Homo sapiens: one gene and its partners. The protein of the gene in region 1 purifies or fractionates together with the protein of each later gene. This does not show direct contact. Each region holds a gene or a part of one and is shown on either strand. Other genes may lie near its edges.

Evidence for each region.
Region 2: the proteins of FBXL18 (region 1) and GNA11 purify together in Homo sapiens (affinity purification with mass spectrometry, with the first as the bait; one large-scale study listed by BioGRID). This does not show direct contact.
Region 3: the proteins of FBXL18 (region 1) and ACSF3 purify together in Homo sapiens (affinity purification with western blotting, with the first as the bait; one study listed by BioGRID). This does not show direct contact.

Annotation. Positions count from the first base shown.
Region 1 is NC_000007.14:5,496,693-5,500,336, forward strand, and holds part of FBXL18 (F-box/LRR-repeat protein 18), read right to left. Parts: intron 1-3,644. UniProt on the Homo sapiens protein: Substrate-recognition component of the SCF (SKP1-CUL1-F-box protein)-type E3 ubiquitin ligase complex.
Region 2 is NC_000019.10:3,107,848-3,111,491, forward strand, and holds part of GNA11 (guanine nucleotide-binding protein subunit alpha-11), read left to right. Parts: intron 1-2,301; coding exon 2,302-2,486; intron 2,487-3,644. UniProt on the Homo sapiens protein: Guanine nucleotide-binding proteins (G proteins) function as transducers downstream of G protein-coupled receptors (GPCRs) in numerous signaling cascades.
Region 3 is NC_000016.10:89,152,722-89,156,747, reverse strand, and holds the end of ACSF3 (malonate--CoA ligase ACSF3, mitochondrial isoform 1 precursor), read right to left. Parts: intron 2,659-4,026; coding exon 2,541-2,658; 3' UTR 515-2,540; downstream 1-514. UniProt on the Homo sapiens protein: Catalyzes the initial reaction in intramitochondrial fatty acid synthesis, by activating malonate and methylmalonate, but not acetate, into their respective CoA thioester. May have some preference toward very-long-chain substrates.

The DNA of each region.
Region 1 (3,644 bases):
GCAACACAGCAAGACCCCGTCTCTACAAAAAATACAAAAAACTAGCCAGGCGGCCGGGCACAGTGGCTTACGCCTGTAATCCCACCACTTTGGGAGGCCGAGGTGGGCGGATCACCTGAGGTCAGGAGTTCGAGACCAGCCTGGCCAACATGGTGAAACCCCGTCTCTACTAAAAATACAAAAAAAAAATTAGCCGAGTATGGTGGTGGGCACCTGTAATCCCAGCTACTCTGGAGGCTGAGACAGGAGAATCGCTTGAATCCAGGAGGCAGAGGTTGCAGTGAGCTGAGATCATGCCATTGTACTCAAGCCTGGGTGACAGAGTGAGACTCTGTCTCAAAAAAAAAAAAAAAAAAAAACTAGCCGGGCATGGTCGCATGTGCCTATAGTCCCAGCTACTCGGGAGGCTGAGGTGGGAGGATCACCTGAGCCAGAGAAGGTCGAGGCTGCAGTGAGCTGTGATCATGCCACTGCACTCCGGTCTGGGAGACAGAATGAGACCATTTTTAAAAAAAAAAAGTGGGAAAGCCCAAATTTTACATGCATTTTGCGTCAAATTTCTAAAGCAGGGAGATTCTGAAAAGTCGCCCGTCTGGTTCTCAAAGCAGTCGCCCGTCCTGGTTCTCCAGGATGCCTGGGTCAGAGCATGAATAACCACCCCGCTCCCCACGCACGGAGCCTCGCAGTGGCTCGAGCTGAGAATCAAAGCGGCCGATCCAGGGCCTGGTGACTCCACCAGACAGGAAATACAGAGGCTTCTAGCAATCTGCTCTGCCATTTGAAAGTCCTGGGTTTGATCCTGCGCTTCTCAACCCAACACTAACAGGTCTGCAGTGGGAGGAGGTCGAGAGGGAGGGTGGCGCCAAGCTGGCTGCATGGCCGGGGGACTCCAGGGTGTGAGCCTCCAGCTCGGCTGCTCCCGAGCAGACCCGGCCACTTCCTGCCATGCCTTCTGCGGGAGAGGGGAGATTTACAAGGGGCGCCCTTATCTCTACTCTGCATGGCTCCAGGGCCAAGGTCAAGCACCGGTGTTTGCGAGAGACTCAGCTCCCCCTGAGCTCCCACAGCCTCATCTGGGAAATGGGAATGATCAAGGCTGCAATCGCAGCAGATTATGGCAGGGAGGATGGGCTCAGTGCATGGCTCTCAGCAAAGGCACAAGGTGAATGCTAACTATTCTGGGGACAATGACACGTGCCCACGTGCCCCTTAGGCTGGAGCATGACTTCATGTACCCGCAACCCACCCCACCAGCTAAGGACTCACAGAGACACCAGCTCACTCATCTAAGCCCTGCCTCCACTTTCTCCCCCACCCAGTCCCTGGTAGTACTGAGGCTCAAGGCCTTCACTACCTTTTGGGTAATTTTTTTTCTTTTTTCTTTTTACTTTTTTTTTTTTTTTTTTGAGACCGAGTCTCACTCTGTCACCCATGCTGGAGTGCAGCGGCCAGTGGCGCGATCTCGGCTCACTGCAAGATCCGCCTCCCGGGTTCATGCCATTCTCCTGCCTCAGCCTCCTAAGCAGCTGGGACTACAGGCGCCCACCACCACGCCCAGCTAATTTTTTGTATTTTTAGTAGAGACGGGTTTCACCGTGTTAGCCAGGATGGTCTCGATCTCCTGACCTTATGATCCACCCGCCTCGGCCTCCCAAAGTGCTGGGATTACAGGCGTGAGCCACGGCGCCCGGCCGAGGCCATTTTGATTTTTACTTTAAAGGCTCGCCACATGGACAAAGGCCAGGGGGCTTCACACGCTCAGTCAACTCCAGGTACAGACCCCACCTATTCAGGGCTCTTCGCGTGTTCTGGCCTCCCTGGCAAAGTGCTGGGATTACAGGCGTGAGCCGCCACGCCCGGCCCATTTGGGGTAATTTTTCTTTTCTTTGCTTTTCTTTTTGAGAGTCTCACTCTGTCACCCAGGCTGGAGTGCAGTGGTGTGATCTGGCTCACTGCAACCTCTGCCTCCCGGGTAAAGAGCAATTCTCCTGCCTCAGCCTCCTGAGTAGCTGGGACTACAGGTGCCTGCTCCCACGCCCCGCTAATTTCTGTATGTTTTTGGTAGAAACAGAGTTTTACCATGTTGGCCAGACTGGTTTCCAACTCCTGACCTTAGATGATCCGCACACCTTGGCCTCCCAAACTGCTGGGATTACAGGAGTGAGCCACCATGCCCAAACCCATTTTGGGTAATTTTTCAAGATCAGATTTATTGGCCAAGATTTTCAAATTCATCTCAAGTTAACGAATTCTTATTCCTTAAATACTAGGAACGGACAAGAACACCGTTCACTCCACAGCACAATTCAGCATAAATTCATGTTGTGCTTGGCTCTGGAAATGCCATGGGCCCTGGACACTGTCTGGTGTGGAGCTCTCCCAGGCCTGTTGTTCCACCTCCTCCCCGCTCTGGGATGGGTCCTGCTCCTAGTCCCAAGGACCATCACCTCCCAGGAGTCTGTGGTCCCCCTCCTGAGCCGACCTCTCCTGTCTCCTCCATCCTGTGCCCTGAAGTCCATCTGGGATGCCCAGGGAGGCTGCTCCCTCTCCCGGGTGAAACCCCTCGGCACTGTTGCCCACCTTCCTTGTCTGCCCCATCTTCCCTACTCCCTCCCACCTCCCATTGTGCCCTGGACCCTCTGAACCGACTGCTCTCTGAAACGACTGCTCTCTGAACCGACTGCTCTCTGACATACTTCCAAGTCTCTGGGGTTTCTTCACATGGTACTTACTGACCCAGAAAGCATCTGCCTTGCCAGGCGTGGTGACTTATGCCTTGTAATCCCAGAACTTCGGGAGGCTGAGGCAGGTGAATCACCTGAGGTCAGGAGTTCAAGACCAGCCTGGCCAATACTGCAAAACCCCGTCTCTACTAAAAATACAAAAAAATTAGCCAGGTGTGGTGGTGCACACCTGTAGTCCCAGCTGCTCGGGAGGCTGAGGTGGGAGAATCGCTTGAACCCAGGAGGCAGGGGTTGCAATGAACCAAGATCGCGCCACTGCACTCCAGCCTGGGTGTGTAGAATGAGACTCTGTCTCAAAAAAAAAAAAAGAAAAAAAAAAAAAAAGCAAAGATGGAGGCCAAGGGTGGTGGCTCACACCTGTAATCCCAGCACCAGCACTTTGGGAGGCCGAGATGGAGGATCACTTAAGCCCAGGAGTTCAAGACCAGTCTGGGCAACATAGTGAGACCTTGTCTGTACACAATTTTAAAAATATATATATAGCCAGGCATGATGGCATATGCCTGTAGTCCCAGCTACTTGATAGGCTGAGGTAGGAGGATTAATTGAGCCCAGGAGATTGAGGATGAAGTGAGCTATGATGGCACCACTGCACTCCAGCTTGGATGACAGAGCGAGACCCTGTCTCAAAAATAAATAAATAAATAAAATTTAAATTAAAAAAAAAAAAGGAATTGCATTGCAAAGTCAGGTCAGAAAGGCCTGGGTTCGAATCCTGCCTCCCCCACCTACTGGCTCTGCTGAGTGGCAACAATGATGCACCTGGCAGGGTCCTGAGACGATTTCACAGGATGACTCATAGTAGGGCCAGGCAGTCACTCAAACACTATCAGGAATAAAGACACTAAGCTCAGACATCCGCCTCCTGCACCCCCAGCTCCTCTAGATGCCGCTCTCCCC
Region 2 (3,644 bases), on another chromosome or scaffold:
CACCGCCCTTCTCTTCAGGGCGCGGTGAGGGAAGGGCGTGTGGGGGTCCCTCTGGGGAGAAGGTGTTTTCACCTTCACACTCACCCTCACTCCTCCTGTCCTGGAACTTGGGTGGGTTTGACCTTTTGTGGATGAGGTGAGGGCTGAGAGGTGGATTACTACCTGAGACAATCAAAATCAATTTTCTTTCTTCTGAAAAGGACTCAGGGTGTTTGAGAAAAGTACTGGGGAGAGGCAGCTGCCACCGGGGCTCCCCACTCGGGATGTGTTGGGTGTTTTGCGAGACCCCCCACAGGGAGCTCAGGTGCTGTGGGCAGTTCCTGGGCTTTGTCGAGGGCCTCCCGAAGGCAGCACTGTGGCCACCGTGGGACACATGCAGCCTGTCTCATCTCTAGGAGCTGCCAGGTGAGGGGTCCTGCGACAGGCACCTGTGCAAAGATATCTACCATGGGCAGCAAGGAAGGTTCCAGAAAGTACCGGAGGGAGAGTTGTGTTGGGGCTTGGGGGCTTTCTAGAGCAGAGGCTGTGAGAGGAAGTGAGCTGGGTCCCAGCACCAGGCAGCCTTTAGGCAGCTGTGATTGGAACAGCACTGTGGGCAGAGGGCAACAGCGTAGGACGTGTGTGGAAGTGGGGAGGTGCCGGAAGATTCAGAGACACAGGGTGGTGAAGGCGAGCCTGGAGAAGTGGGCTGGGGGCATGCTGGGAGGGGGCGGTGACGCTTGAGTCTCTAGGGCACCGGGGGCCTGAGCAAGGTTAATACCTGAGTAGAGAGTTGAGGCAGTCTCTTTTTAGAAATTAGAAGTTAACTATTGCTGTGTAATGGGGTCACCCCAAAACTTCGCAACTTAAATTAACAAAACTTATTTCAGATAGTTTCTGAGGGTTGGGAATGTGGGAGCACTTTGTTGAGTGATCCTGGCTTGGGGTCTCTCAGAAGTTGTAGTCAGGATACCAGCCAAGCAGGGGCCACATCATTTGAAGGCTGGACTGGAGCTGGAGGAGCCACTCACAAGTTGGCTCCCTCTAGTGGCTGTTGGTGGGAGGCCTCAGTTCCTCACCACGTGGGCCTCTCCGTGAAGCTGCTTGAGGGTCCTCACAGCGTGGCGGCTGCCTACCCCAGAGCCCCTGACCCGAGACTGAGGGCAAGGAGGAAGGCCTGTGCCTTTTGTGAACTGGCCTTGGAGATGGCACACTGTCACTTCCATCACATTCTGTTTGCTAGAAGCAGGTCACTAAGTGTAGCCCATGCTCAAGGGGAGGGGAATTAGGTTCCAGTATGGAAGGGATGAGCATCAGAGATTTGTGGACACACTGGAAAACCCAGCATTGGCATCCCAGCGTGTGAGGGTGAAGAAAAGTGGGGAGACGGAGTCTCTGCCCAGGAGGTGACCAGGTGAGAGGCAGAGGCAGGAGAGGGGCTGGAGTGAGGACCCCCATGTCACCCAGAATGTGTGGGGGGCTCATCTGGAGGCTGGGGTGGAGCGACAGCTGGCCACATGGGCCCCCTTCCCGATAGTTTTTCCAGGCTGACTTGCTAATCCTTTTCATCCTCTGGGGCCCTGGGACCATCAGTGTGCCCATCTCTGAGATGGGGTGGTAGCGTACTCGTCTCTGGAAGCATTGTGGGTATTAGCAAGGTCGTGGCAGGCGTGGAGACGTAAAGGGGTTCAGGGATGTGCTCAGGGCCACCTGTGGCAGGCACAACGGTCCTGGCTGACCCCGCCACAGCACCAAGAGGGAGAGGGGAGAGCCTCGTGGGTGCTTGGTGCGCAGGGGGCAGTGTGGCCGTGGCCGCTGAGCAAAGCTCTGGGGAAGGGGGCGCCCAGCCCTTGGGGTGGTCTGTGCAGAGATGCCGTTGGGGTGAGTCCGTCTGTCAGGGCACCGCCGCCACGTCTGTGTGCTGTCCCTCTGGTGAGCATTGGTCATGAACTGGCGTGACCGTGGTGGAGCTGCACAGTCCCAGCTGCGGGGCCGGTGCCGTGCGACTTGATTTGGCCTGAGACCGTGTGGTCTTTGACGTAAATACCAACAATTGGCCCCCAGGAAAGTGTGTCCTTGCAGAACTTCTGGAAAAGGGGTGGTTCCAGTAAGACCCTGGCTTGGTGGAAGATGGGAAGGGCGCTTTGTAAACTCTTTCCGAGGAGTCAGGAGGCCGTGGCGTCTGGTGGAGAGACGGTCAGCCTCACGTGCCTTGGTTTCCTGTGCTGGGTGCTGCAGCACGGCAGGGTCTGGGTAAGAGGGGGCAGCAGCACGAGAGTCAGGCCCCGGCTGCCGCCCGCCCTCACGTGCCCCGTCCCCCAGGCACGGGCGAGAGCGGGAAGAGCACGTTCATCAAGCAGATGCGCATCATCCACGGCGCCGGCTACTCGGAGGAGGACAAGCGCGGCTTCACCAAGCTCGTCTACCAGAACATCTTCACCGCCATGCAGGCCATGATCCGGGCCATGGAGACGCTCAAGATCCTCTACAAGTACGAGCAGAACAAGGTGAGCCCGCGGGCGCCTGGGGAGGGGAGCGCCTGGGCAGCTGTGGGCTTGGTGGTGAGCATGGTGGCCGCGCTGCCAGGGTGGGGCCATGCCGGGGGTCCCGGCCGGCCCAGGCTACCCCTGGTCATCCATCCGTTCCTGTCATGGACATGGAAACAGCAACCGCTGACTTCCTGGGGGCCAACTGGAGAGTTGTGATGGGCATTGCGTGGCCAAGCCCCACAGCCTCCCTCCCAAGTAGCTGTGGGCGCCCACATCCTGTGGGTGGGGAAGCTGAGGCCCTGGGGAAGCTGAGGCCCTGTGAGGTGAGCCACTCGCCCAGGTCGCCTTGGGAGTAAGCAGCGTGAGCTCCTGGTTCCGGCCCCTTCCCCAGGCTGAGCAGCCTACCAGGCACCTCGTTTCGGCCCTGACACTCACCCATGGGGCTGTACTTCTCACCTTCTCACACTGTTTTTTTGTTTTGTTTTGTTTTGTTTTGTTTTGAAAACAGGGTCTCGCTCTGTCGCCCAGGCTGGAGTGCAGTGGAATGGTCAAGGCTCATCACAGCCTGGACCTTCTGGGCTCAGGTGATCCCACCACAGCCTCCCGGGTAGCTGGGACTGCAGGTGCATCACCACGCCTAGCTAATTTTTGTATTTTTTGTAGAGATGGAATTTCACCATGTTGCCCAGGCTGGTCTTGAACTCCTGGGCTCAAGCAGTCCTCCCGCTTTGGCCTCCCAAAGTGCTGGGATTACAGGTATGAGCCACCATGCCTGGCCTCCGCCCTGGTTTTTTTTCTTTTTTTTTTGATAAAGTAGAGGTCATTTGATGCCCTGTTTTTAAATCACAGCTTTATTGAGTTATAATTCACATTCTATGCACTTCACTTGCTTAAAGTGTATAATTTGGTGGTTTTCGATATGTTTGCATAGTCGTGCAGCCATCACCGCTGTCGGATTCCAGATTTCATTTTCTCAAAGGAAGCCCCTTCCCCATCGGCCGTCACTCCCACCCCCTCCTCCAGCCCCGGCACCCACACATCCCCTTCCTGCCTCTGTGGATCGGTCTGTCCTGAACATTTCATAGAAATGGGATTGCACGCCATGTGGCCTTTTGTGTCCGGCGTCTCTCACTGAGTGTGACGTCCTCAAGGTGCATCCACACAGTGGCCTGTGTC
Region 3 (4,026 bases), on another chromosome or scaffold:
AGGGCGGCAGGGGCTTCACCCTGGCCCCTGATGAGGGAGGGGCAGAAAGAATGGGGCGGCACCTGCCACAGGCTGTGTGTGGGACTTTGCTGGCAGCAGCAGGCGCGGTGCCACGGCTTTGGGGACCAGCTGGTCACCAGGAGTCCTGCCATCCCCTGGTGCCTGAGAGAAGCTGGGCCACCCGCCTGGGAGCAGCTCCTGGCAGCACCCCTGTGTCTGGCTGGGGTCAGAACTGGTGACTTTCCAGATTCAAGCCAGCCTCCCTAGGAGGTCAAAAGCACCAGGCATGTAGAGGGGCTTCTGACCCAGCTGGTGGCAGCCTGCTCCCAGGGCACCTGCTCCTGGGTCTAACTTTTGTGGCATGGGGCCGCCCAGCAAGGGGCAGGGTGTGTGGGGTGGGCGCTGCCAGCCACGTGGGACTGTGGTATCCTCATGGAGCTCAGTCACGGTGAGTTCGCAAACAGCACCCCCCGGCCTGTGTCTCCAGAGGCCAGGTCAGCACCAGAGGCCAAGATGGGGAATAAACTGGGCTTTAATGGGGAGGGAGGAGAGGATGAGTTCCCTCCAGGACGGGCTTGTTCTCGGCTGGTGGAGCAGAGGGGAACCAGGGGCCTGGCTGGGCACTGGCGGACTGTGTGCACGAAGGCCGACCAGCCTGGCACAGGGACCAGCTGGAGAGTCACTCGTGACTTTAGAACACGGCATTCAACCGCATGTCCTTGGAGCACCGTATTCTGGTCAACCGGCTGGTCAACGAGCTCCAGGCTTTCTGTAGTTTGTGGTCAACGAGCTCCAGGCTCTCTGCAGTTTCTGGTCAATGAGCTCCAGGCTTTCTGTAGTTTGTAGTATTGTCAGCAGAAAGTTACACTCATTATTTCGAAAGCATGATATACTGATGTATACTATCGGATAAAGCAAATGATTATGTAAGCTTTTTAGGAATCAAAAGTTTCAGGATTAAAGGAGAGAGATGCAAATGTAAAATTAGTGGAATTAAGTAAAAATTTTGCTATGTTAAATTTGACCTTTTCCCAACAGAAGGCATTTCCTTAGCTACCAGCAAGGCCTAGACACAAACGTCTGGACTGTAGTCTCTGACTGCCGTTCCCTTGGGTCCAGGCCTCTGGCGGGAGGGCGGGACCCCTTCCTCTGACTGTTCCCGGGGTCAGGCCATGGGGATGCACAAGGCCACACCGTGAGGCAGGAGTTCGGGTGGGGCAGGGCCGTGGACTGGGGCACCCACCAGTCCTGGAAAACAGGGCTGGGACGCTGCTCTGTGGCCTCAGACAAGCTTGGTGGGCGACATGCTCAAGTGAGCAGGGGCCCCAGGCCACGTCCAACTGTCCGCGAGGCATGTGAGCCTGAGATGGGGCTGGTCTCCTGTCAGAGGCACGTGAGCCTGAGATGGGGCTGGCCTCCTGCCCGGCACACTCGTTTCTGGCCACTCTTTCAGACGTGCATTCCGGGGGCAGAATGTTCTGGGTAAGTTCAGGCCAGACACTGCTGGGCGATGACTGTTACTTCCCCCAGGCTGTGGGGAGGAGGCAGCCTATTCTTCTGAAAATTGTCCAGAAACTTCTGGATTCTGCATGTGGCCCCTGTGCATCTGAATTGGCCCCGCTAAGTAAATGCAACGTGGGTGCACCCAACATTCACAACACACCTTCCTGAGGTTTCTGCATCGGCCACGCCTGTGGGCTCCGGAGCTGGGTCTGGGGAAAAGCTGGTGAGCCACAGACATGAAATGGGGGCCATGGGGCAGGTGGGGGTCTGGGTGGAGACGGTGATGGGAGAGAGGGTTCACCGGCTGAGGGGCTGGTGTGGAGATGACCTGGAAAGTCCCTGCGCTGGGGGGTGAGGCAGGGTCACGGCAGAGCAGCTCCGGGGCCATCCGTCCACGCACTTTCTGTGACACATGCTGATGGACACACAGTAGTGTGCAGGGTGGCAGGTGTCCCCACAGTGGGAGCTGCTCTCCTCCAAGAGCAGCACCAGGAAATGCACGGAACCCATGGGACAGGGCTGGTTCTGGGAGGCTTGTGAACCCTCAGCTCCTCCCAGGAGGGCCCCCTGGGTGGCTGCCCAGACCTCCTATGTGGGCCGGGAGACACTGGCTCTGGGTGAGGCACAGGCACGTGCAGACGGCGTGGGACAGGGGCTTGTTTCCTCCAGTGGAGTCTTTGTTTTTTGTGGGAAACCTCTGGGACCTGCCCTGGAGAGCCTGGCAACTGCAGGGCACTGTGGGGCGGGAGGTGCCTCAGCACGTGGGGCCAGGGGCTGGCTGCACCGCGCTGCACAGATGAGGTCGGCGGTGACCAGGCAGAGGTGACACCAGGGACGGTCTCCTTGAGCTGCAACAACTGGCCCGAGGCTGGGGACCCCACATGGTGATTTCATCCCAAACAGTTCTTGATTCTACGTGACCTGATTTGGGGGGTTCAGGTTTAAGGGAGGCCAGGTCTTGGACGGGCCCCCGTGGTTCTCGGTGTGAAGGGGACGTCTGCTGCTCCCCACCAGACCCGCAGTCCCAGTCTGCCGGGTCATGAGGGGTGGAAGTGCCTGATGAGCGCCTTCTTGTCAATCTTGCCCATCTGGTTCCGCGGGATCTCCTCCACCAGCACCAGCTCCGAGGGCACCGCGTACGGGGCCAGGACATTTCTGCAGAGACAAGCACAGCCTGAGGCGCACTGCCCTGACAGTGCCCAGCAGGAGGAACTCAGGCGCCCAGCAGTACGGACAGGTGCCCCTGGGACCCTGCAGCCTTGCCAGGCGCCTCGGCCATCCTGAGGCCAGGCAGGTGCACCGGGCCACCGCAGCTGTCTCTGCCCTAGCAGCCCAGGGGTGGTGACTGCAGGAGGTGCCCGGCATGGTGTTATCACTGGTACCACAGAAGCCATGGTGCGTGCAGGCCTTGGGCGAGGGCACACCTGAGGATAGGCCTGCACAGAGTGGCCTGCAGGGCAGAGGGGCCCCCACACCGGGCCAGGCCTTCCAAGTCCCCGCACTGGAGCTGGAAGGCCCCATTTCACTCTGTGGCCCGTTCCCCTTCCAGAGGAGGCGTGCGGAAGAGGCTGGGGAGTGGGTGGGCAGGTGGGGCAGGGGCAGTCTGCCCTGTATGGGGTATTTGAGATGGGAGTAAATGCCGCACAGTCCTGCAGACACAAGCCTATGTGGCAAGAGGCCTCACAGAGCCCTGCACGGCAGGGACGGCCCCTAAGGTTTGAAACCTCCACTCAGGGTCCCCCTTCCTCATGGGCGAGAACTCGGTGGGTGGTGCCAGGGCGGTGGGCGGTGCTGACACGGGTGGGTGGGGCCAGGGCACTGCCAATGCAGGCGGGCGGGGCCGAGGGCAGTGGGCAGGGACGAGGCGCTGGGATCTGAAACTGAGACTGCAGTGGTGCTCGGTGCTCCTCCATTCACCATTAAAGAAGGGAGGAAAGAAATGAAATTAACCCCCCAAAGGGAGGATGGTTGTGCCGCCCACCAGTGATGCCCTGAAGGCAGCGGCCGTGGCCCAGGCGCAGGAGGGGCTGGTCCAGGGCGTCCAGGCTGCACTGAGCCATGACAGAAACGAACCTTCATGGCGATTGTTCTGGTTACTGTTCCGCGGAAAAGTCCAGAAACCAAGTGTCGTGGTTTCTTGACGCTTTTTGTGGAGAAAGTGTCGCCTGCCGTCCAGACGCGGCCAGAGACCCAGCACAGTCCCCCTGCCCACCTGCCCCTGCCCGTAGGCCTCTCGCGACAGAGGTGGGAGTCGGCCCAGCCCAGTCTCTCGCTCTCCAGGGGCAACTGGCTTCGACCTCGGTGTCGCTGTCAACCTCGACCTCCACATTTCCAAATCGCATTTTTCTTTTTTTCTCTTTTCTTTCTAGGACAGGATCTCACTGTTGCCTGGGCCAGAGTGCAGTGGTGCAGTCATGGCTCACTGAAGCCTCGACTTCCTGGGCTCAAAGGATCCTCCCGAAGTGCTACAGGTATGCGTCACCTTACCTGGTTCCAATGTTCCTATCAAATTTATTTTGGCAC